Regions from separate parts of the Homo sapiens genome. Here all the other regions are linked to region 1. Evidence: fine-mapped expression QTL. A gene starts in region 1. Each other region holds a variant in brackets. All regions are shown on one strand. Distances are from middle to middle.

Evidence for each region. PIP is the estimated chance that this variant, and not a neighbour inherited with it, causes the effect.
Region 2: its variant is the best candidate, but not a certain one, in a credible set for the expression of THAP6 in whole blood (INTERVAL, PIP 0.55).
Region 3: its variant is the best candidate, but not a certain one, in a credible set for the expression of THAP6 in whole blood (INTERVAL, PIP 0.65).

Annotation. Positions count from the first base shown.
Region 1 is chr4:75,509,724-75,517,909 of GRCh38, forward strand. It overlaps THAP6 (THAP domain containing 6), which reads left to right and starts at 4,750. Exons shown (of 5, transcript NM_144721.6): 1 at 4,750-4,797; 2 at 5,710-5,809; 3 at 7,049-7,256. The coding sequence starts at 5,730. It overlaps RCHY1 (ring finger and CHY zinc finger domain containing 1), which reads right to left and starts at 4,680. Exons shown (of 9, transcript NM_015436.4): 1 at 4,474-4,680. The coding sequence starts at 4,563. RefSeq lists enhancers at 3,789-4,719, 4,406-4,885, 4,720-5,650, 5,226-5,445.
Region 2 is chr4:75,538,518-75,546,703 of GRCh38, forward strand. It overlaps LOC124900717 (a long non-coding RNA gene), which reads right to left and starts at 2,043. Exons shown (of 2, transcript XR_007058142.1): 1 at 1,938-2,043; 2 at 1,342-1,515. It also overlaps a transcript of THAP6 not described here. The variant C/T (reference allele first, on the strand shown) is at 3,941.
Region 3 is chr4:75,442,894-75,451,079 of GRCh38, forward strand. LOC107986230 (a long non-coding RNA gene) reads right to left here. Exons shown (of 3, transcript XR_001741514.2): 3 at 5,603-5,766. Among named protein-coding and RNA genes, the nearest start is that of RCHY1, 67 kb to the right of the region's middle. RefSeq lists an enhancer at 4,812-5,380. The variant C/G (reference allele first, on the strand shown) is at 4,993.

The sequences.
Region 1 (8,186 bases):
TAAAATCTCATGAGATCTGATGGGTTTATCAGGAGTTTCCACTTTTGCTTCTTCCTCATTTTCTATTGCCACCACCATGTAAGAAGTGCCTTTTGTCTCCCGCCATGATTCTCAGGCCTCCCTAGCCATGTGGAACTGTAAGTCCAATTAAACCTCTTTTTCTTCCCAGTCTTGGGTATGTCTTTATCAGCAGTGTGAAAACAGACTAATATAACACCCCAATTTCATTCTGAGCCTAAACAGCAAACAGGCAACCTCTTCTTAGACATTTCCAGATAAATTCATTTACATTAAAAATAATAAAGATTATATTCTTATTTTACTAGCTTTTATTAATCATCAACCTCATATCTAATATTGCACAAAATGCAACAAATGTAAGAGACAGCCCTTGTTTTCAAACACGGCAAAGACTGCCAGTTGTCCACCAAAATCTATCCTCTCCTTCCTGGGCACAATTGTTCAGCTATATCAGACAGATGGCCACATGCCCTAAAACATGACAAAATGATACAACAGAAAAATCTCATCCCTGGAGTGACCATGTGGAGCAAAGCCTCATCACCAACCTGCATCACTCGCCTTGGAATTGTTAAATGGAAAGAAATAAAACCTTTACTCTTTAATCTACATCACTGTTGGGTTTTTTCATTACAGCAACTTTACCATTACAAGTATATCAAGAGATTTCCAGGCCAGTGACTTTCCAATACACTGTGACCTTGCAGATCCACTCATTTCTGAAGGCTTCCTATGCCTTGACTTACCATAACGTAGTTCATTCCTTAAAGATTTTAACACTTAACTGGCTTCCTTTTTCTGCAACTCTCAGTTCCTTAACTTTGTCATTTCCAATAACCTTGTCCTCCAACCCACTATTCTCATAGTTATACCGCAGAACAGTAGTTCTCAAATGGTTTGGTCTCAGGATCCCTTCACACTTTTTAAAATTACTGAGAATCCCAAAGAGCTTTGGTTTATGTGGATTTTATCTATTGACATATACCACATCATAAATTAAAAAGAATAGGTTTTTAAAATATTACTTCTTTTTAAAAGTAACAAACTCATTACTTGTTAACATAAATAACATGTTTTAATGAAAAATAACTATATTTTTCCCCCCAAACAGCTGAATTCTTCTATCTGCTTATGCATTCAAACAGTTGTGGCTGAAGTACAAAAAGAAACTCTGGCCTCACACAAATATGTACACTGGAAAAGAAAGGAGTATTTTAATAGCCTTTTTGGAGAATTATGGATATCATTCTCTGATATTACACTAGAACAACAACTCTTAAAGGGTAGTTGCAACATGAAATCTGAAATCGTATCAAGGAATATGATTGATATGATGCCTCTTTTCTTCCTTGGTTACATTAAAATCTATTGCTCTATCTTGCACTTCAAATGGATGTTTTACTCATGCATTGGTCATCTGGAGAATACCAGTTCAGTGAGTTATTTACATCTTCTAAATGTTCACACATTTAACATGCAATATCAAAAAATCATATTCATTAAAAGTCTTTAGGTATTGAAGAAAATCTCACCAAAAAAAGTCTTTTAAAAAGCTTCCAACCTCACAAAAGCTAGTAAAAGTTTTCCAAAATTCTAATTTTTGTGTGAAAGCTTGAATTTTATCACTGGCAACAAATACTGTCATTTTCATTTGTAGTGAGTCTCACTTTTCTCCTTTTTGAGAAAATGTCTGCCAACTACCCAAATGTGAATGACTACAATTTTTTCAAGTAAAAAATGCTGTTCCATGAAAAAAAGCAACTAGTTCACTTTACAATCCAATTTGCACAAGAGCTTTTCCTCAAGACAACCCTCTAATTTCAGTTTGCAGAAGTGTTTGATCAAAACTTCCCATGTCATTGAACAGCATATTAAAAGATATATTCAAGGGTTGAGATTTGGTTAAAATTAACGATTTTACTGCTTTATCAACATTTTTAAGTGAAGCTGGCTTTTTAAAAAAACTATAGGTGTAGTATAGTTCAGTGCCACTGTCTTGATTCAAGCTAAGATACTAGCAATACTAAACAGTGCTTTTCCACCATCAATGCGTGTGTCAACAGACTGAAAAAAAAAAAAAACAAATATCTTAGTGTTCATAGAAAGTAGTTTTGGCCTTGCAGAGCCCCTGAAAGGACTTCAGGAATCCCCAGGGTTCCATTCACCACACTTTGAAAACCAATGCTACAGAACAACGGCACCCTCTTTGCATCTCAATTCCAAGCATGAAATTCTCTAACCATTACCTCCTCCCTAACTTACTCCAAGTCTCCCCTTGCAACACCCTAGTTCCCTTCTCAGTTCCTCTACACTCATAGATAACAATCCCAACCCTAGTTAAATCCTATTTGACTTCTATCAGAAGCAGGTGAATATGGCTAGAGAAAAAGCATCACCGTCCTTGCTGGTTCATATGAGGTGGACACTTACTACCACGTTTCCCTGGTCAATTCTCTCATTCTTCCAGAGTCTAAGACCTAAGATTTAGATGATCATTTCACTTCTTCTCCTCTGGCTTTAAAACTCTAACAACTCTTCCTCCTTAACACTCTGCTGATGACCTTATTTCACTATAAAAACAGTAAACATACTTCCTGCTGACAGGCCTGAAAAGAACATCCTCCTATTATCTCTATTAACTTACTTGCAAATATACCTCATTCTCTGCCTTCCCTTAGGAAGAACTGACAGTCTATGTTTCTAAGGCCAACTCCTTCACTTGTGCACTGGATTTCATCCCCTTTGGCTACTCAGGGACAATGCCCTTACAGTTTTCTCACTCTCTCCTGCATTATAAAACGTTCTCACTCTATTGTATCATTTCCTAGAATATACAAACATGCTGTAATACTTCCTCTCTTAAAGAGGAAAAAATATGGTGCCAGATCTCCCAGCAACCACATCTTTTTTTTGCTCCCCTTTACAGCTAAACCCCAAGAATACCCTATAAGTGCTATTTTCAATTCCACTCCTCCCATTCTTTCCTAAATTCACTCTAATCCTGATCTCTCCACTAAAACTCCTCTTGTCAAGATCACCAGTGACCTCTTCCTTGCCAAATCCAAAGGGCAATTCTCAGTTATCTTACTCAAACAGCTGCATTTGACCCAGCTGACCACATCCTCCTTGAAATACTTCACTTGGCCTCTGGTATTTAAGGGGGGGGGGGGGGCGGGGGAAGGCAAAAACTGTTTGACACCTAGGGCGAAGTATCTTAGTGCTATGATACACAGATCTAATTGTGTGGTTTATGGGGGGCACCAAGATGTTAAATTCCGTTTTAGACCTCAAGTTTGAAAGAATAATAATACATCTCAGTAGAAATTGAATCATAAGGATAGCATTCAATTTCCTTACACAACACTTGGTGGATGACCAACATTTTTAAGGAGCTTCATCCAGTTCAGTGGAGCAATGTTCGTCAAGCCATGACCTATAGAAAAGAGTTTAGGATGCACGTACAGGCCTGAGACTTGAACTTGCTTCTAATAATGAGGCAGTGACCAGCAAGGCTGACTTGTGAAGTGAAAGAACAAAAAATAATAATACTCAGATTGACGATGATAGTAACAGTCATGGTGGTATATATTTACTACTCATTTACTTCAGGGAATGCGCCCTGTTAAACACTATACACGCCCTTTAGTATATAATCCTCATACACTTTTATGAAACAGGCGCGATCATCTCCATTTTACATACGGGGTAGAGAGGAGCTAGCTAAAATCAGTTATTAAAGAGGAGAGCTAAGATTTGGGGATAGGGCGGTTGAGGTTCCAAAGCTCAAGTTTTCTAAGCAAAATTTTTGTACTGTTTCTTGCAAGGAAAATCAGGAAACTTCAATTGAATACGTGCCAATTTAAAAAAAAATACAGATTAAGAAGTTTTCTCAGAGTAACAATACATGCTTATTAGGCACTTTCCTATGCATAATTTCCTATTTAATGGCAATTACATGATTGTCTTCTTTTTTGGGACACACGTTTTCTCCTACGTCTGAACATGTGCACTGCCTTTAACATGAAGCTGGCAGGCTATAAAACTTTACCACAGGAGCTGAAATCGTATTCGGGTTCTCCACTTGCTTATTTCCATTATCTCCACTTCCATTATTTCATCACACACCTGAACGGAAAACCCCAGTACAGGCCCGGGGCTGCCTCAGTCTACTTCGGCAGCAAAAGACGAATAAGCCCACTGGCAGAGACCACTGTGCAAGCCTAATCACTTCCCAAGAAGGGTTTTGCTTTAAAGGTACGAAGCAGGTAGGAAAGGTGGGGCTTATCGCCTTGCCAAAAACGTTCTCCTCAAGAAGAACCCAGTTCCAGGTGGAAAAGGTATCCTGAAAATCAGGTTAACCTCAAACTTAAATCCAAGCCTAACCACCTGCCCAGCCCGCCCCAGCCCAACCTGACGGAAGCTTGTCAGGGAAGAGTCCATAGAAGGCGTCACCTTTAGGAGACATCCTCTGTCATAGTGCTCGCAGCCCCGCTGACCTCGCTCTTGACCGCTGGCGCCATCTTCCCGGGCCGTCGCCGCCATCTCCTCCACCTCCCCTCACATTCCACCGATCCTTCCCCCAGGATAAAAACCACGCCCAGAGAAGCTGCGCCTCTCTAGCACACCCCTCCCAGCCCCAGCGGCCACTAGCGACAATATGGCTCCTAAGCACGTGACCCGGGGCAGACGGATTTCCGGTTCCCGGGGCTACGAGGCGGAAGCGAAGGCAGACGCAGTCTCCGTCGTTGACGTTAGTCGCAGTCTTCGCTGCTAACGGTAATAACTCTTAGGTTGCCTGTTTTCCCCCAATCGCTACCCGCCCAAATCTCAGGGCGTAGTTCGGCGCGAGGTTGGCGGCAGCGGCGCGGAGACGCTGGTTGGCCCCAGAGGAAAGGACGCTCACTGGGCGCATCGTTACCTGTGACGGGTCCTCCCTCTCTCCCTCCGGTGGCGGGGAGCCTGGAGAAAGGGGCGGAGCTCGGCCCGGGCCCTGGGCTCAGCGGGTCCCGCGCGCTGCTCTTGGACGCCAGGGTGCTCGCTGGCACCTCGAAGTGCTTCTTGCTTCCTCCCTTTCCCGTTTACTTGCTGTTCTTTCAAAATATGTACTGACATTCACTATTGCCAGTCACCAGCTAAACCGTGAGGACAAAAAGTAAGGAAAAATAGACACACTCCACCATGACCTCATGGAACTAACAAGACTGGTGGAGGAGGAAGACATTAATAAGAGCAATCACTGCAATAAATGTAAGATTACAACCTGGAGAAGTGCTAGGAAGAAGTGTGTGTCCTGTGAGAGCTAATATTAGAGCAGCTCTGACAATCTGAGTGTCAGTGAGGGAAGGCTTCCCTGGGGAAGCGATGCAAGCCGAGGGCTGAAAGATGGGTAGGAGTTAGTGTGCAAAAGGCTTTGTGGCACAAAGAACATGGTACCTGTTAGAAGGTGGAAGGAAAATGTACAAGCCAACAAAATTGAAATCATACTCGGGGTACACAGCTAAATATGTTTCTCCTTATTAAAGAGTCAAGGCCCTGGAAAATGATGTAAGCAAAGCTGCAGGTGTTAGAAGAAGATATTTGTCTTTAGCTTTCTATCCTGATTTTGTGTTTCCTAAAACACCGGGAAAGGGAAAATATTCCCCTTCAGCTTTCCGGTTACTAACTCTTAACATTCTAATTTTCTTTCAGTTTTGTTATGAGTTGCTAAAATGGTGAAATGCTGCTCCGCCATTGGATGTGCTTCTCGCTGCTTGCCAAATTCGAAGTTAAAAGGACTGACATTTCACGTGTAAGATTTTGCTGTAGTTAAGCCAAATACTTTGGCCATGTTATAAAAAGCAAAAGACAGTTCTACTTAAGTCTTCAATTTTGAACTTTAGTTCCCGAGTCCTTTTTAAATAACCTTTTTGTTAAATTTGAAGTGACAATGTGATACCTTTACATGTTTATAATTTAGTTTAAAAGTTTTAAGATATCAGAGACTTTAAGATATCAGAGACTGGTTTACAAAAAATACCATAAGGCTAACTTTTGCTAATATTATTACTTTGTATTTTATCACACCGCCAAAGAAATTCAATGTTGTTTACATGTAGTTTACAATCTGAATGAAGGAGCTTTGCTCGAATATATTGCCCTCTCTATTTAGAAGTAGATCAAGCATAGGTTATAGAGAAAAAATACAAATTACAAGTTAAGACCAAGGGATCTTTAGCTGTGTTGCAAATAAATCAAAATGATTTTAGTTTCATATTTTAGCCATTCTCTTGACAGCCATGAAGGAGTAAGTGAAGGAGTAATAAGATTTAATAGTTGTTCACTTGTTAAAGGTTTATTTTGCTGCTTTTGTGCCAGGCACTGTCCTATGTGTTAGAGAAAGATCTCCTAGCTATTTTGTTAGATATAATAAATCAAAACTGAGCATATATATCCTACCTTATTTTAGAAAAATTTGAACCAGCTTGAAAATTGAGTAAGATATGGCTATTAGGCCTTCATATCTCTCAAAATAGCTCTGATCTCCAGAACTCCACACTGCAGCTATTCTCTGCATTCATTCACTAAGCATCTGTAGACCTGCTATGTATTAAATGCTGTACTAAGCAATTTTCTGGTGCTGACAGAAGAATGGAATTACAAGGGGCCCTTTTTATCGAGGATAAATTCTGGATATCATTTCAGATAGGAAAAGGCCCAAGTGATAATTCTTTTATCATCTATAGATGAATAAATACCTTCAATTGTGGATCTTACTATAAGATGCTAAATATCCATTGAAACTTTTCTTCCTTATAATGTGAGAAAAAATGAAATGAGGGCCATATATCTGCAGCATGATTGGCAGAAAATCTGAATATTAAAACGGAAAGTAACAAAAGCATGAATTATGGTTTCCTAAATATTATAATTCTCAAGACTAATAAACTAGTTAACGAATCAATTTAGTCACAGTTGTATAAGGCAGCTTTAATTCAATTATATAGCAATAGTATTTGATTTTAAAATATTTTTTGTATTTTTTTTCTAGATTCCCCACAGATGAAAACATCAAAAGGAAATGGGTATTAGCAATGAAAAGACTTGATGTGAATGCAGCCGGCATTTGGGAGCCTAAAAAAGGAGATGTGTTGTGTTCGAGGCACTTTAAGAAGACAGATTTTGACAGAAGTGCTCCAAATATTAAACTGAAACCTGGAGTCATACCTTCTATCTTTGATTCTCCATATCACCTACAGGTTTGTTTATGAGATACTGTTTACCATCATTGCTCACTTTTTTTTTTTTTTTTTTTTGAGATAGAGTCTCGCTCTGTCACCAAGGCTGGAGTGCAGTGGCGCGATCTCAGCTCACTGCAATCTCTGCCTCCAGGGTTTAAGCAATTCTCTGCCTCAGCCTCCCGAGAAGCTGGGATTACAGGCACCTGCCACCACACCTGGCTAATTTTTGTATTTTTAGGAGAGATGGCGTTTCACCATCTTGGCCAGGCTGGTCTTGAACTCCTGACCTCGTGATCCACCCTCCTCGGCGTCCCAAAGTGCTGGGATTACAGGCATGAGCCACCGTGCCTGGCCATTGCTCACTTTTTATGATACTATTGAAGAACCTTCACCACTCTTGCTAACATTTTTATTGTTTGCTTATTCATTTGAAGTCTGTTCTTGAAGTTTTAAATTTGTAGACTGCATCTTCAACTTTTGTAATGTGTAGTAGGAGTATTTTACCAGTAACCACTCATAAATATTTGTATATTACTAAGGTTTGATGAAGTGGGCTGACTTTAGGAATTAGCATAACTGAAGATTTTTGTCTAAAAATGGAAGTTAACGTAAGAAGGTTGAACTGATGTTCCAAGTTGGCAGTCCTTAACACTGGGGCAGAAGTCAGGAGTAGAACCACTAACAGGACTAAAGTACTTGTAAGAGCCACATACATGCAAGCATAAAGTCTAGGTAGGATCAAAAGGAAGAAAACCAAAAAAGAGATCTAAGAACAGGAGAAGAAAAGGTCAGGAAAAGAAAGAACAGTCAAATAAGTAAACGCTAATTGAATTCCATGTTTTTTCTGGGTAATATTCCCATGGGTTGGCTGCCTCACCCTCAGTATCTCTCTTGACTTTGTATACCTGAAAGTGAATTTCTAGAACCTATAGACATTGATTGATTGAT
Region 2 (8,186 bases), 29 kb after region 1:
GAAGATGAGAGGTATAATTGGCTCTTCCACTGGACTAATGGGAAGAGGGAAGCCAGGTTTCTAAAACCTAAAGGCAAGCCTGGGTAGCGCCTGAGCCATTGATGCCTCTTGTTGACTACCCTCTTCATAGGTCTCATTATTTTACTTTCACATTGCTGCCTCAAACTTCATTTAATATTTTAACAACTGTCACAGCTCCCTTTGGAGAACACGCTCAAGATAAACAACTGTCCCCCTGCTGCCACATCCCTCACCTTCCTGCTAGCTGTGCTTCTGATCATAGAATTGTGCCTGATGCAGAGCAGGAGCTGACAGAGATTGAAACGAATGAAGAAAATGTTAGATTAGGACCAGGAAACCCAAGAGCAGAAGACCTACAATTTGTAATCTAAGAACCACATGAGGGTCCATGATGAGCACTAGTCACAGCAGTTGAGGAAGAAATGCTGAGAACCTAGCACATTCAACATTTCCACACGTATTTTTCAGGAGCCAGGAACTGTATGCCAGGGAATATGCTAGGCATTGGAGAAACAACATAGATTCACTTCCTGTCTTCAAGGAGATTACATGCTAGTATGAAGTTCCAAAAGCCATACTCCAAGGATACCAGGGAGCGCAGCCATATATCTCAAGACAATGGGTTCTTGAATTCAGCCTAATGCCTTTCTCCTCATTGTGCACTACTTTATTGGACAACACACATGGCTCAATAGATTTATACCACAGCATCTTACAGTTTAAGTGTTTGGGTCTATCATTTTATATCTGTCTTCTCAGGTACATGAAGAAGTTTACAGACTAACATGTTTAGTGTAATAACCCATCACATATACTGCTTTCGAAGCCCCATACGATAGTGTGAGAGAACAACAGGAATAAGGTGAAGACATTCACAACCTACAGGGACATACAAGTACATAACACAAATACAGATAAGTGGGCAATATAGCAGGGTCTGTGGCAATTAAAGGTACTGAAACTATGAAATTAATGGAGCTTCAAAATTACAAAATAGAACATAAGTTTGTCAGTGTGGGCACTTTGAAAGTGCTGTCCCAGAACCTGGATTATGTAAGCACCTTCCTGGGATGTGAGAGTAGGAGACCAAACCAGCTGGGGAGAACCAAACAGACTTGGGTTCAAGTTCCCAGCCTCCCACTTCATTATATATGGGAAGTGGGTCAACTTGCTGAACTTCTCTGAGCACTTACAAAGTAGACAATAGCACCTTACCCATTGGTGGTGAGAATTTTATTTCATTGCGTATAAAACGTAGACCATACAATGAGCCATCCACATACTGTTTTTCTTTCTTCTTTAAATTCCATCCCATCCCAGAAACACAGGAAAAGGAAACAAGAACAGGAAGAAGAACAAAAACCAAGAAGAGAGAAATGCATTTCATAGGGAATGGCAAGTGGACAGGCAACAGTGGTCAGGTAGGCTATTTGTGCCTTAAATAATCTTCCCTCTCTTGTGGCAGCTCAGAAGCAGGCAAGGAACATTGTATCACTGAAAGGGAAAATTTCAATCACCATCCTCCTCTTCATCCTCTCACTCCAATACTGACAAGCCATTTAATCTATCTTAGATATGTTTCGTTCATTCACCCGTTCATTCAACTTTATAAAACATCTTGACAGTGTTACTTAGAATGTTCCCAGATCAGTGTATACAAATCAAGGCACTTGGAGCAGAATGTAGATCGACTACATCACAAAGCACACCATTTAGCTCAGTCAATTTTTTTTTCAGTCAGAATGTTTTCTGAGCAAGACTTCCTTAGTAAATGAAATCATATGTTGATTTACATTCTGGAACAAGAGCTTTTTCTCATTCTGAACCAGTCAGAAAGAGTTCATAGGCTAGCTACTTTGTGTAGCAGTGTCTCAGAGCATCAAGTCACTTACTAAACAGATAATCCTTGAACTCACCTGAGCTCCATGTTCTGTGGTCAGTTAACAGCAGAGGAGTTCCTGACAGATTTGTGTCCAATAATAAACTTCTCAAATCCTTGTGGTACAGCTTGTGCAGTTGAAAGGTAATATCGCATCTGAATTTGCAGATTTGGGCCTTGTGCTTTTTAAAACAGAAGAGTTTTATTAAATAAAGAGTGAAGTGTATGTGCTATGCAGGATGCTAACCACAGATACTAGTGATTAGTACCTTATGGAGACAAGCATTCAGCTACAGACTTGCCAGTAAAATGTACTCAACATAAAATTTCAATAAAAATAAGGATACTGGTGCTTATTAAACAGGTAGATTTTATAACGGTATAAAATGTTGCCAGGCTACACAGCTGAAAGAAATTACCTTTGAAATCCTGAGGATGTAAAAAAATTTTGGATTGTCACTCTTATTATAACACTTGTAGATGGGTCTTAAGAGTAGGGAATGTCTTGATTATTGAGATGTACAATTCAAGTTTCTATGGCCATCACCATCATCTGGACATATTTTGTTGAAAATCACATGGGAAAATGGTGTAACCAGAAACAAGACATGGCTATCCAAAGGATCAAACTCACCAGGACACCATAAAGACTGGTAAATTTTAGGATGAAATGCAAATGTATTCTATATATTAAAACTAAAAACCATTTTAGTAAGTTATTTTTAAATGTACCTGATAGCAAAGGGGCTCTGTATGTGCCACGTGAGGGCTACGTGAGGACTGTTCATGAAAGCATAAAGTAGAAGGCAACCCAAATACCCATCAAGCAGTAAATGGATAAATAAAACCGTGGCGTGCCCATGGAATGAAACAATAAGCACCAATTCAAAAAGACATCAATCCATATTATCGCCATGGGAAAACAAGACCTTAACATGGATAAAAACAATATAAAGCACAACTCAAAATAGTATCTCACTTATATAAAATGTTTTGAAACCTACCTACAAAACAATTTATAAGTGTGTACGTGTGTGTGTGTGTGTGTAAGTATATAGAAAAAGAAAGAAAAGATATATGCAAACTTTTAAAGTGGTTACTTCTAGAGAGGGGGTTATATACTTCCTGGGAACAGAGACAGAGAGTGCACATGAAAGAAAGAGAGATGAAGGGAGGGAGGAAAGGAGAATAAAAAAAGGAAAGAAGGGAGGAAAAGAAAATTATAATAACAGCATTCTACAAATTTAAATCAAAACCAGCCGGGCACAGTGGCTCATGCCTGTAATCCAGCACTTTGGGAGGCCGAGGCAGGTGGATCACTTGAGGTCAGGAGTTCAAGACCAGCCTGGCCAACATGGCAAGACCTCGTCTCTACTAAAAATACAAACATTAGCTGGGCATGGTAGCAGGCACCTGTAATCACAGCTACTCAGGAGGCTGAGGCAGGAGAATCGCTTGAGCGCAGAGGGGCGGAGGTTTCAGTGAGCCAAGATTGCACCACTGTACTCCAGCCTGGGCAACAGAGCAAGACTGTCTCCAAAAAAAAAAAAAAAGAAAATCAAAACCATTTCATCTCTGAAAAATGAGGTATTACTTGTTATCATTACCTTCATCATCCCCCTGGGACATTGGCTAAAGTTGGATGTAAGTCTTGAATTACTAGTATTTCCCGTGACACCTACATATTTCAAAGAAATCTCCCAAACCCCTGCCAGCCCAACTATTTGAGATTTAAGAAACCACTGTCTGGGTAGGTGTGTTTTAAAGATTTTAATTAGCTTGCCTGTGACTGGTCACCAGCAGAACCCTACAAATGACTGCCTCCATCCCTTGTTGAGAACCTCACAATACAGCTTTCCAACTGACCCAATACCTCAGAAAACTAAAGAACGTGACTTCAGAGTACTGATATCTGGGAAGTATTGCATGCTCTAATAGAGCTGATCGCAATTTTCATAAATCCTCGTATTTCTGCCTGTGTTTTGTTTCAGATATCCATGTTCAAGAGGAAATGTTTGTTCAAGGCAAAAAATTATTTCT[C/T]AGTAACCATCATAGCTAACATTTATAAGGTGCCAATCTTTATTCAAAGCACTTAAACTTTATTAACTCATTTAACTTCACAACAACCCTATAAGGTAGGTACTATTATTATTATTCTCATTTTACAGAAGAGGAAATTAAACAGAGAAAAGCTAGGTAATTTGCCCAAGGTTTCACAGCTGGTATAACGATGTCTTCATATCATTATATGAAGTCACGTTGTTGTTTGTTCTGATCTACAATGCAAGAGCCAGAGACTTTTGTTTTGTTTTGTTTTGTCTTTTTTTATTTATTCTGGAGACCCAGAGACTTTGATTCACTCATTGTTGAATTGTTGCTGAACATTCACAATGTCTTAAAGGCCAGACTTCAGTCACTCCATTTGGAAGCTCCAGTTGGGGCATTTAGAGGCTGAAGGATAAAATGTGAACTCATCTTGTGTCTGAAGCTGAGGAAAGCCCATAGTTACTCATTACCACAATCTGGATCTGTCTGATGCTACTGCCAAGCATAAACAGGGCAGATGCACACTCAGGATGAAGTCACCTTACCACATACACAGGCAAAACATTCAAATATCCACAGGTCTCACCAGCAAAGGAGTCTGTCTAGTCACCTGGTTTCTCTCAGCTCTCAGGAAGAATGCATGGAATGATAAAAGATTGGTCCTGATCTCTGCTAATGCTTTACTCAGCCACTGGAACTGACACAATTTTTTACTCTATGTCTACATCTCTAGTCTATAATCAAATACAAGAGCATAAAAAATTAATAGCTCTTCTTCCTCCATTTTAATACTAGGCTTAAGAATTTTCATTCTCTATGTGATTTGCTACTATAGTATATTAGTAATATTTTAGAACCAGTTTTAGCAAACCACTTGTGGCATACTGTGTATGGCTTCAGGTACAGCTGGATCTAGGAGTTCAAATGATGTTTTCAGAATCTGGAGTCTCTCAACTCTGCTTTATCAAGCAGCCTCTCCCTTCATGTAGGTATGTTCCTCACAACTTCAAGTCCAAAGACAAAATGTGTGCCTCCTTTCCAGTCATTCATATGACAGTCCCAGGACTAGTTCGGACTGAGTCTGATTGAAATGGCTTGAGTCAAATACTCAACCCTAAATAAATATCTGTGGCCATAGGAATGCTATGCTATGATTGGCAGTCATAGATTACAGCCGATTCCTGGAACCAAGAGAGTAGAGAAATGATGGTTTTCCAGAGGGAACTCAGGGTTAAGTCCTCAGAAGAACTGGATAGGTACTGGGCTGGGCAAGCCAAAATAATGGCAGTGGAGCAGAGAGAAGAGAGTAGGCTGGCTCTGTAGTGGTAGAGCATAGCTGCAGAGTGAAGATTTTTTGTTAGTAAATCGCTTCGTGTACATTTGTTTACCAGAACAAGGGGAACAGCATAGAAGTATTCTATCCTTGTTATGGCCATGATAGACAATATAGGCACTATGGGTCGCCCCCAGTAAATTACATTCTTGGAAGCTGACTCTTCTTAGCAGTGTCCCATCCACTCCCTCCCTGTGGACTATTGCTCTTCCCACTAGCCATGAGGTAGGTCCATGTGACATTTTGACATTTCTCAGAATAAACCAAACATTTATATAGGGTGATTTTTTGAACACTTTTTATAATGGAAAGTTCCAAACAAAAGTAGAGAGTATAATATACTCTAATGCATCCATCACCCAGCTTCAACAGTTATAAAACATGGACAGTCTTGTTTTATCCACACCCTCACTCTCTCCCCTCCTCTGATTATTTTGAAGCACATCCCAAACAACATATAATCTGTAGCTATTTCAGCATGTATCTCTAAAAGATAAGGACTTTATTTTTTAATTTTTGTTTGTTTTTTAGAGACAGAGTCTCACTCCATCACCCAGGCTGGAGTGCAGTGGCGCAATCTCGGCTCATCACTCCGTCGCCCAGGCTGGAATGCAGTGGCGCAATCTCGGCTCACTACAACCTCTGCCTCCCAAGTTCAAGTGATTCTCATGCTTCAGCCTCCTGATCAGCTGGGACTACAGGAGTGCACCACCATGCCCAGCTAATTTTTGTATTTTTTGGTAGAGACGGAGTTTCACCATGTTGGCCAGGCTGGTCTCAAACTTCTGGCTTCAAGTGATACCCCCCAACCTCGGCCTCCCAAAGTGCTAGAATTACAGGTGTGAGTCCCCACCACCACATCTGGCCTAGGACTCTGTTTTTTTTTTTAGACAAAGGTATATATCACTGTTTCATCTAAAAACATTTAACAATAATCTCCCTCCAAACATTGTAATGGGTTGATATGTCTCTAAAGTCTCTTTTAATCTGTAGGTTCCCACTCCATTATTTATTTTACCTTGAAAAAAAATTAACCAAGTGTTTTGCCCTACAGAACCTGGGTGAATTTTAAGGATACTATCACAGGGCTCTCACTGCAATAGGACAACAGCCAGAGTCTCAAGAGCACACCTACTATAGAAATTAAAATCAAGAATTCTGGAGCCAAATTGCCTGGGTTCATAGCATGGCTCTGCCACTTCTTAGCCACAGGACAACCTCTCTGTGCCTCGGTTTTCTCATCTCTAAAATGGGGATGACAATAGTAACTACCTCATTGGGTTGTTTTAAGAATTACATGACTTAATGTATGTCCAATTCTTAGAACAGTGATGCTTAGGATATAGTAAATGATAACATAGATGAGGAAATTGAGAGGCAGGGAAGCTGACTGGTCCAAGGTCCTGCAGCTAAACAATGGCAGGGCAGAGAGCACAGCGCGGATTCACCCCACTGGTTTAATACTCTGTTTCAAACCATCGATGAATGCAGGCTCTTGTTGACGTGGGCATTACTCTGCCCCTCACCGGGATGTTACTGCCATTCTGTTGCTAAATCACCAGGATGAGGTTAGGAACCTTCTCCAGGCCTCAGGCTCCTGCTCTGCAAACTGAAGGAACTAGAGGTGTGGTTAAGGTGCCTGAACCCCCTTTTAGGAGAAATCCCAGCAGAAGATGCCTAAGCAAGCCTTGCAGGAAGTCATCTAGGCCACCTTCAAGTCAGTGCCAACCGCAGAATCTTTAGATCCCCCAAAAGAGCACCTGTCCCTTTGTGGTGCTTCTGACAGAGAACCCCAAGCAGCCCTAGACCTCCCTCAACCTGACTCAGGGGTGCCCACCACTCCCCATCCTCCCTGACACACATAATCCTGGCTGAGGCAGCCCAAATAGCAGCTTCCCCGGATTACTCACCGTGGCTCTGTGAGAAGAATGCCTCTCCCAGGCAGCGTCCGCAGTTGTGACCACAGATGGGAGACTAGCCTAATTGGACTTACCAGCAGCTCACCTTGGCTTCCTCAAGGCCCAGCAGCAGGACAGGGCCTTTCTCTGAGCAGAACTTGAATGATAAAAGAAGCAGGTGAAGCTGATCCAGCCTCAGACAGACCTCCAGTGGGCCCTTGAGGGTGTGAGAGGCAGCTCTGCGGGCCCACCCTAGAACTGCGTGTGGACAGCTAGAAAGCCTAGCCTTTCTGACATTGCTGGCCTAAGAGGTTTCATCTTTAGGGTTTTTTTCCTTCTCAGGCTGCTAGCTTCCATCTCACTTAATACAGAAGGATGGTCTCAATTTAAGCATCTGAAACAAATTACTTAGCAAAAACCATTTTCGTTGTATCCAAACCCAGTGTCTTCAGTTTGAGCTCTCTGAAATTCCAAACACATGTTCAAACCACCAGGAAAGAGGGAAAGAGAGACTGAGAAGAGGGGGACTGAAGCAGGGAAGTCACTATGAGATTCTCCCCAAAATCCCGATGTTCAGCCTCTGGGTGAAGGACATTCCATCCTGAGACGGAGGGATTGCTCTCTTCACCAGCACCTTTCTGAAGTGTCTGTGTTAGAGGCAGTTCAGTGCTCACACAGCAGCCTGAAATTCTTAGTCCTCCCACACATCTCCAGTCAAGGAGCACTGTCCATGCCCCTTCATTGTCCATAAACACCCAAGCTCTTATTTAGAAGCAATTGATTTCTCAAATCTTTTCCTATGTATTTATTCACTAAACCTGTCAAGCAACACATTTAAGCATGACAGAGAAAGAATATGGGCATGTGTTAGGATTCCCTAGAGAAACAGAACCAATAGGGTGAGTATATGGAGAGGAGAGGTTTAGTTTAAGGAAGTACCTCATGCAGTTACGGAGGCTGGCAAGTCCAAAATCTACAGGGTAGGCCAGGCAGGCTGAAGACTCAGAGA
Region 3 (8,186 bases), 67 kb before region 1:
TGGTGTATATGTGCCACATTTTCTTAATCCAGTCTATCATTGATGGACATTTGGGTTGGTTCCAAGTCTTTGCTATTGTGAATAATGCTGCAATAAACATACGTGTGCATGTGTCTTTATAGCAGCATGATTTATAGTCCTTTGGGTATATACCCAGTAATGGGATGGCTGGGTCAAATGGTATTTCCAGTTCTAGATCCCTGAGGAATCGCCACACTGACTTCCACAGTGGTTGAACTAGTTTACAGTCCCACCAACAGTGTCAAAGTGTTCCTATTTCTCCACATCCTCTCCAGCACCTGTTGTTTCCTGACTTTTTAATGATTGCCATTCTAACTGGTGTGAGATGTTATCTCATTGTGGTTTTGATTTGCATTTCTCTGATGGCCAGTGATGATGAGCATTTTTTCATGTGTTTTTTGGCTGCATAAATGTCTTCTTTTGAGAAGTGTCTGTTCATGTCCTTTGCCCACTTTTTGATGGGGTTGTTTGTTTTTTTCTTGTAAATTTGTTTGAGTTCATTGTAGATTCTGGATATTAGCCCTTTGTCAGATGAGTAGGTTGTGAAAATTTTCTCCCATTTTGTATGTTGCCTGTTCACTCTGATGATAGTTTCTTTTGCTGTGCAGAAGCTCTTTAGTTTAATTAGATCCCATTTGTCAATTTTGGCTTTTGTTGCCATTGCTTTTGGTGTTTTAGACATGAAGTCCTTGCCCATGCCTATGTCCTGAATGGTAATGCCTAGGTTTTCTTCTAGGATTTTTATGGTTTTAGGTCTAACATTTAAGTCTTTAATCCATCTTGAATTGATTTTTGTATAAGGTGTAAGGAAGGGATCCAGTTTCAGCTTTCTACATATGGCTAGCCAGTTTTCCCAGCACCATTTATTAAATAGGGAATCCTTTCCCCATTGCTTGTTTTTGTCAGGTTTGTCAAAGATCAGATAGTTGTAGATATGCGGCATTATTTCTGAGGGCTCTGTTCTGTTCCATTGATCTATATCTCTGTTTTGGTACCAGTACCATGCTGCTTTGGTTACTGTAGCCTTGTAGTATAGTTTGAAGTCAGGTAGTGTGATGCCTCCAGCTTTGTTCTTTTGGCTTAGGATTGACTTGGTGATATGGGCTCTTTTTTGGTTCCATATGAACTTTAAAGTAGTTTTTACAATTCTGTGAAGAAAGACATTGGTAGCTTGATGGGGATGGCATTGAATCTGTAAATTACCTTGGGCAGTATGGCCATTTTCACGATATTGATTCTTCCTACCCATGAGCATGGAATGTTCTTCCATTTGTTTGTATCCTCTTTTATTTCCTTGAGCAGTGGTTTGTAGTTCTCCTTGAAGAGGTCCTTCACATCCCTTGTAAGTTGGATTCCTAGGTATTTTATTCTCTCTGAAGCAATTGTGAATGTGAGTTCACTCATGATTTGGCTCTCTGTTTGTCTGTTGTTGGTGTATAAGAATGCTTGTGATTTTTGTACATTGATTTTGTATCCTGAGACTTTGCTGAAGTTGCTTATGAGCTTAAGGAGATTTTGGGCTGAGACAATGGGGTTTTCTAGATATACAATCATGTCATCTGCAAACAGGGACAATTTGACTTCCTCTTTTCCTAATTGAATACCCTTTATTTCCTTCTCCTGCCTAATTGCCCTGGCCAGAACTTCCAACACTATGTTGAATAGGAGTGGTGAGAGAGGGCATCCCTGTCTTGTGCCAGTTTTCAAAGGGAATGCTTCCAGTTTTTGCCCATTCAGTATGATATTGGCTGTGGGTTTGTCATAGATAGCTCTTATTATTTTGAAATACGTCCCATCAATACCTAATTTATTGAGAGTTTTTAGCATGAAGGGTTGTTGAATTTTGTCAAAGGCTTTTTCTGCATCTATTGAGATAATCATGTGGTTTTTGTCTTTGGCTCTGTTTATATGCTGGATTACATTTATTGATTTGCGTATATTGAACCAGCCTTGCATCCCAGGGATGAAGCCCACTTGATCATGGTGGATAAGCTTTTTGATGTGCTGCTGGATTCGTTTTGCCAGTATTTTATTGAGGATTTTTGCATCAATGTTCATCAAGGATATTGGTCTAAAATTCTCTTTTTTTGTTGTGTCTCTGCCTGGCTTTGGTATCAGAATGATGCTGGCCTTGTAAAATGAGATAGGGAGGATTCCCTCTTTTTCTATTGATTGGAATAGTTTCAGAAGGAATGGTACCAATTCCTCCTTGTACCTCTGGTAGAATTCGGCTGTGAATCCATCTGGTCCTGGACTCTTTTTGGTTGGTAAGCTATTGATTATTGCCACAATTTCAGCTCCTGTTATTGGTCTATTCAGAGATTCAACTTCTTCCTGGTTTAGTCTTAGGAGAGTGTATGTGTCCAGGAATTCATCCATTTCTTCTAGATTTTCTAGTTTATTTGCGTAGAGGTGTTTGTAGTATTCTCTGATGGTAGTTTGTATTTCTGTGGGATCAGTGGTGATATCCCCTTTATCATTTTTTATTGCATCTATTTGATTCTTCTCTCTTTTTTTCTTTATTAGTCTTGCTAGAAGTCTATCAATTTTGTTGATCCTTTCAAAAAACCAGCTCCTGGATTCATTAATTTTTTGGAGGGTTTTTTGTGTCTCTATTTCCTTCAGTTCTGCTCTGATTTTAGTTATTTCTTGCCTTCTGCTAGCTTTTGAATGTATTTGCTCTTGCTTTTCTAGTTCTTTTAATTGTGATGTTAGGGTGTCAATTTTGGATCTTTCCTGCTTTCTCTTGTGGGCATTTAGTGCTATAAATTTCCCTCTACACACTGCTTTGAATGCGTCCCAAAGATTCTGGTATGTTGTGTCTTTGTTCTCGTTGGTTTCAAAGAACATCTTTATTTCTGCCTTCATTTCGTTATGTACCCAGTAGTCATTCAGGAGCAGGTTGTTCAGTTTCCATGTAGTTGAGCGGTTTTGAGTGAGATTCTTAATCCTGAGTTCTAGTTTGATTGCACTGTGGTCTGAGAGATAGTTTGTTATAATTTCTGTTCTTTTACATTTGCTGAGGAGAGCTTTACTTCCCAGTATGTGGTCAATTTTGGAATAGGTGTGGTGTGGTGCTGAAAAAAATGTATATTCTCTTGATTTGGGGTGGAGAGTTCTGTAGATGTCTATTAGGTCTGCTTGGTGCAGAGCTGAGTTCAATTCCTGGGTATCCTTGTTGACTTTCTGTCTCGTTGATCTGTCTAATGTTGACAGTGGGGTGTTAAAGTCTCCCATTATTAATGTGTGGGAGTCTAAGTCTCTTTGTAGGTCACTCAGGACTTGCTTTATGAATCTTGGTGCTCCTGTATTGGGTGCATATATATTTAGGATAGTTAGCTCTTCTTGTTGAATTGATCCCTTTACCATTATGTAATGGCCTTCTTTGTCTCTTTTGATCTTTGTTGGCTTAAAGTCTGTTTTATCAGAGACTAGGATTGCAACCCCTGCCTTTTTTTGTTTTCCATTGGCTTGGTAGATCTTCCTCCATCCTTTTATTTTGAGCCTATGTGTGTCTCTGCACGTGAGATGGGTTTCCTGAATACAGCACACTGATGGGTCTTGACTCTTTATCCAATTTGCCAGTCTGTGTCTTTTAATTGGAGCATTTAGTCCATTTACATTTAAAGTTAATATTATTATGTGTGATTTTGATCCTGTCATTATGATGTTAGCTGGTTATTTTGCTCGTTAGTTGATGCAGTTTCTTCCTAGTTTCGATGGTCTTTACATTTTGGCATGATTTTGCAGCAGCTGGTACTGGTTGTTCCTTTCCATATTTAGTGCTTCCTTCAGGAGCTCTTGTAGGGCAGGCCTGGTGGTGACAAAATCTCTCAGCATTTGCTTGTCTGTAAAGGATTTTATTTCACCTTCACTTATGAAGCTTAGTTTGGCTGGATATGAAATTCTGGGTTGAAAATTCTTTTCTTTAAGAATGTTGAATATTGGCCCCCACTCTCTTCTGGCTTGTAGGGTTTCTGCCGAGAGATCTGCTGTTAGTCTGATGGGCTTCCCTTTGAGGGTAACCCGACCTTTCTCTCTGGCTGCCCTTAACATTTTTTCCTTCATTTCAACTTTGGTGAATCTGACAATTATGTGTCTTGGAGTTGCTCTTCTCGAGGAGTATCTTTGTGGTGTTCACTGTATTTCCTGAATCAGAACATTGGCCTGCCTTGCTAGATTGGGGAGGTTCTCCTGGATAATATCCTGCAGAGTGTTTTCCAACTTGGTTCCATTCTCCCCATCACTTTCAGGTACACCAATCAGACGTAGATTTGGTCTTTTCACATAGTCCCATATTTCTTGGAGGCTTTGCTCATTTCTTTTTATTCTTTTTTCTCTAAACTTCCCTTCTTGCTTCATTTCATTCATTTCATCTTCCATTGCTGATATCCTTTCTTCCAGTTGATTTCATCAGCTCCTGAGGCTTCTGCATTCTTCACGTAATTCTCGAGCCTTGGTTTTCAGCTCCATCAGCTCCTTTAAGCACTTCTCTGTATTGGTTATTCTAGTTATACATTCTTCCAAATTTTTTTCGAAGTTTTCAACTTCTTTGCCTTTGGTTTGAATGTCCTCCCGTAGCTCAGAGTAATTTGATCGTCTGAAGCCTTCTCCTCTCAGCTCGTCAAAGTCATTCTCCATCCAGCTTTGTTCCGTTGCTGGTGAGGAACTGCGTTCCTTTGGAGGAGGAGAGGCACTCTGCTTTTTAGAGTTTCCAGTTTTTCTGTTCTGTTTTTTCCCCATCTTTGTGCTTTTATCTACTTTTGGTCTTTGATGATGGTGACGTACAGATGGGTTTTTGGTGTGAATGTCCTTTCTGTTTGTTAGTTTTCCTTCTAACAGAGAGGACCCTCAGCTGCAGGTCTGTTGGAATACCCTGCCGTGTGAGGTGTCAGTGTGCCCCTGCTGGGGGATGCCTCCCAGTTAGGCTGCCCGGGGGTCAGGGGTCAGGGACCCACTTGAGGAGGCAGT[C/G]TGCCCATTCTCAGATCTCCAGCTGCATGCTGGGAGAACCACTGCTCTCTTCGAAGCTGTCAGACAGGGACATTTAAGTCTGCAGAGGTTACTGCTGTCTTTTTGTTTGTCTGTGCCCTGCCCCCAGAGGTGGAGCCTACAGTGGCAGGCAGGCCTCCTTGAGCTGTGGTGGGCTCCACCCAGTTGGAGCTTCCCAGCTGCTTTGTTTACCTAATCAAGCCTGGGCAATGGCGGGCGCCCCTCCCCCAGCCTCGCTGCCACCTTGCAGTTTGATCTCAGACTGCTGTGCTAGCAATCAGCGAGACTCCGTGGGCATAGGACCCTCCGAGCCAGGTGCGGGATATAATCTCGTGGTGCGCCGTTTTTTAAGCCCATCGGAAAAGCGCAGTATTCGGGTGGGAGTGACCCAATTTTCCAGGTGCCGTCCATCACCCCTTTCTTTGACTCAGAAAGGGAACTCCCTGACCCCTTGCGCTTCCCAAGTGAGGCAATGCCTCGCCCTGCTTTGGCTCGCGCACGGTGCACGCACCCACTGACCTGCGCCCACTATCTGGCACTCCCTAGTGAGATGAACCCGGTACCTCAGATGGAAATGCAGAAATCACCCGTCTTCTGCATCGCTCACGCTGGGAGCTGTAGACCGGAGCTGTTCCTATTCAGCCATCTTCAGGTAATAGCAGCTCTATGTCAACATATTATATTTTCAATTTATGATGAGTTTATCAGGATATAACCCCATCGTAAGTTAAGGAGCAGCTGTACAATAAAGAAGACCTGAACAAATGTGGAGACATACCATATTGTTAGATTGGAAGACTCAACATAGTAAATTCTCCCCAAATAAATATACAAGTTTAATATAATTTGTATCAAAATCCCAGCAAAATCTTTTGTAGATAGACAAGATTATTATAATATTATATGGAGAAGCAAAGGAAGTAGAATAACTAAAAACAATTTTGAAAAAGAAAATGAGGAATCAGTCTACCTAATATCGATACCTATTATATAGCAACAGTGATCAAGAGTGTATAGTATTGGCAGAGGGATAGACATAGACCAATGCAACAGAACAAAGAACGCAGTAGATAATGTCTAACTGACTTTTTACAAAGGTGCAAAAGCAATGTAATAGAGGAAAGGCAGCATTTTCAACAAATGGTGCTGGAGCAATTGGACATTCATAGGCAAAAAGTAAATCACAACGTAAGTCTTATATCTTTTTATGGTGGATGGGGGATGCCCAGACTGTCACCCAGACTGGAGTGCAGTTGTGCAATCTCACCTCACTGCAACCGCTGCCTTCAGGGCTCAAGCGATTCTCCCACCTCAGCCTCCTGAGACTACATGAGCATGCCATCACTCCCAGCTAATTTTTTTTTTTTTTTTTTGAGAGGGGATTTTGTCATGTTGCCCAGGCTGATCTTGAACTCCTGGATTCAAGCAATCACCTCACCTTGGCCTCTCAAAGTGCTGAGATTACAGGCATGGGCCACCACTCATGTAAGTCTTATATCTTACACAAAAAAATAAATTACTGACTTAAACATAAGACAAAACTAAAACTATAAAACTTTTAGGAAAAAAAAAGAGAAAATCCTTGAAAACCTAGGGCTAGACAACAAGTTCTTCAACTTGAAACTAAAAGCATAATTCATAAAAGGAAAAAATTAGTAAATTGTAATTCATTAAAATTTAAAACTTTTGTTCTTGGGAAGACCTAATTAAGAATAAGAAAAGGCAAGCTACGGACTGGTAAAAAATATCTGCAAACAACATAGCTGATGAATGACTAGTTCCTATAATATATAAAGAACACTCAAAATTCAACAATTTAAAAAATCCAACTAAAACATGTGCAAAAGACATGAAGGGACATTTCACCAAAGAATATATACAGAAAGCAAATAAATAGATGCAAAGATGTTCAACATCATTAGTCATCAGGAAAATACAAATTAAAACCACAACGAGTTATCACTATACACCTCAGAATGGCTAAAATAAAAAATTGTGAAAACATGAAATAAAACGGCAAGAATGAGTTCTAAATAATCATAGTTATAACAAATGTAAATTGTACTCTTGGTTTGGATGATAAGAAGAAAAAATAAAATCCAACAATGTGTTGTTTACAAGACCCACAGAGGATCAGAAATTTGGTTGATGTGAGGAAAAAGTCCACACATTTGGAGTCAGAAGTGAATAAAAACAGCTCAGTAATTATAACTTTATTTTCAATTTCTGCAATTTATTTTCAATTTTAATTTTGTTTGCAGTGTGGTTCGGTCCACAAGACTACCCTCACTTCAGAGGCCAGTCATGAGTATTGGGTCTCCAGGTTACCCATATTTCTGTTCAACTTAATTTCAAATTCGGAGTCTCACATTTCCCTCCCCTACAGGTTTAATACTTTGTAGAACAGCTCATAAAACTCAGGAAAGCAGTTTACTCATGTTTACTGGTTTATTATAAAGGATACAAAGCAGAAGCAGCCAAGCAGAAGAGATTCATAAAGTATGGGGAAGCAGGGGTAGAACGGTTCCATGACCTCTTGAGAGCATCCTCCCCTAGCACCTTGATGTGTTCACCAACCCAAAGCTCTCCAAATCCCATTGTTTGGGATTTTTATGGAAGTTTTATTATTTAGACATGGTTGATTAAATCATGGGCTGTTGAAGATTAGTTCAATCTCCACCTTCTTCCCCCCACCCCGAGAAATTTGGGGGTGGGGCTTAAAGTTCCAACGATCCAATCATGCCATGGGCTTTCTGGCAATCAACCCTCAACCTGAAGCTATCTAGAGGCCTCTAGCCACCAGTCATTTCACTCAAATACAAAAGATACTCTTATTATTCCTAAGATTCTAAGGGTTTTAGAAACCGTGTGCCAGGAACCGTGGACAAAAACCAAACTGTTTTTATTCTACCGCAATTGCATATAGACTTTGGTATGCAACAAAAACAAATAGATTAGAGAGAGAGAGAGACAGAGAGAGAGAGATAATTGATAGATAGATGACAGTTAATAGATAGAAGATAGAGAGATAGATGATAGATGATAGATAGATAGATAGATAGATAGATAGATAGATAATACAGGGAAAAACAAAATTTACTCAGGTTGAACATTTGCATAACATATGACTTAGCAATTCCATGCCTAAGTGTATCTGCAAAAAAAAACTCTTGCCC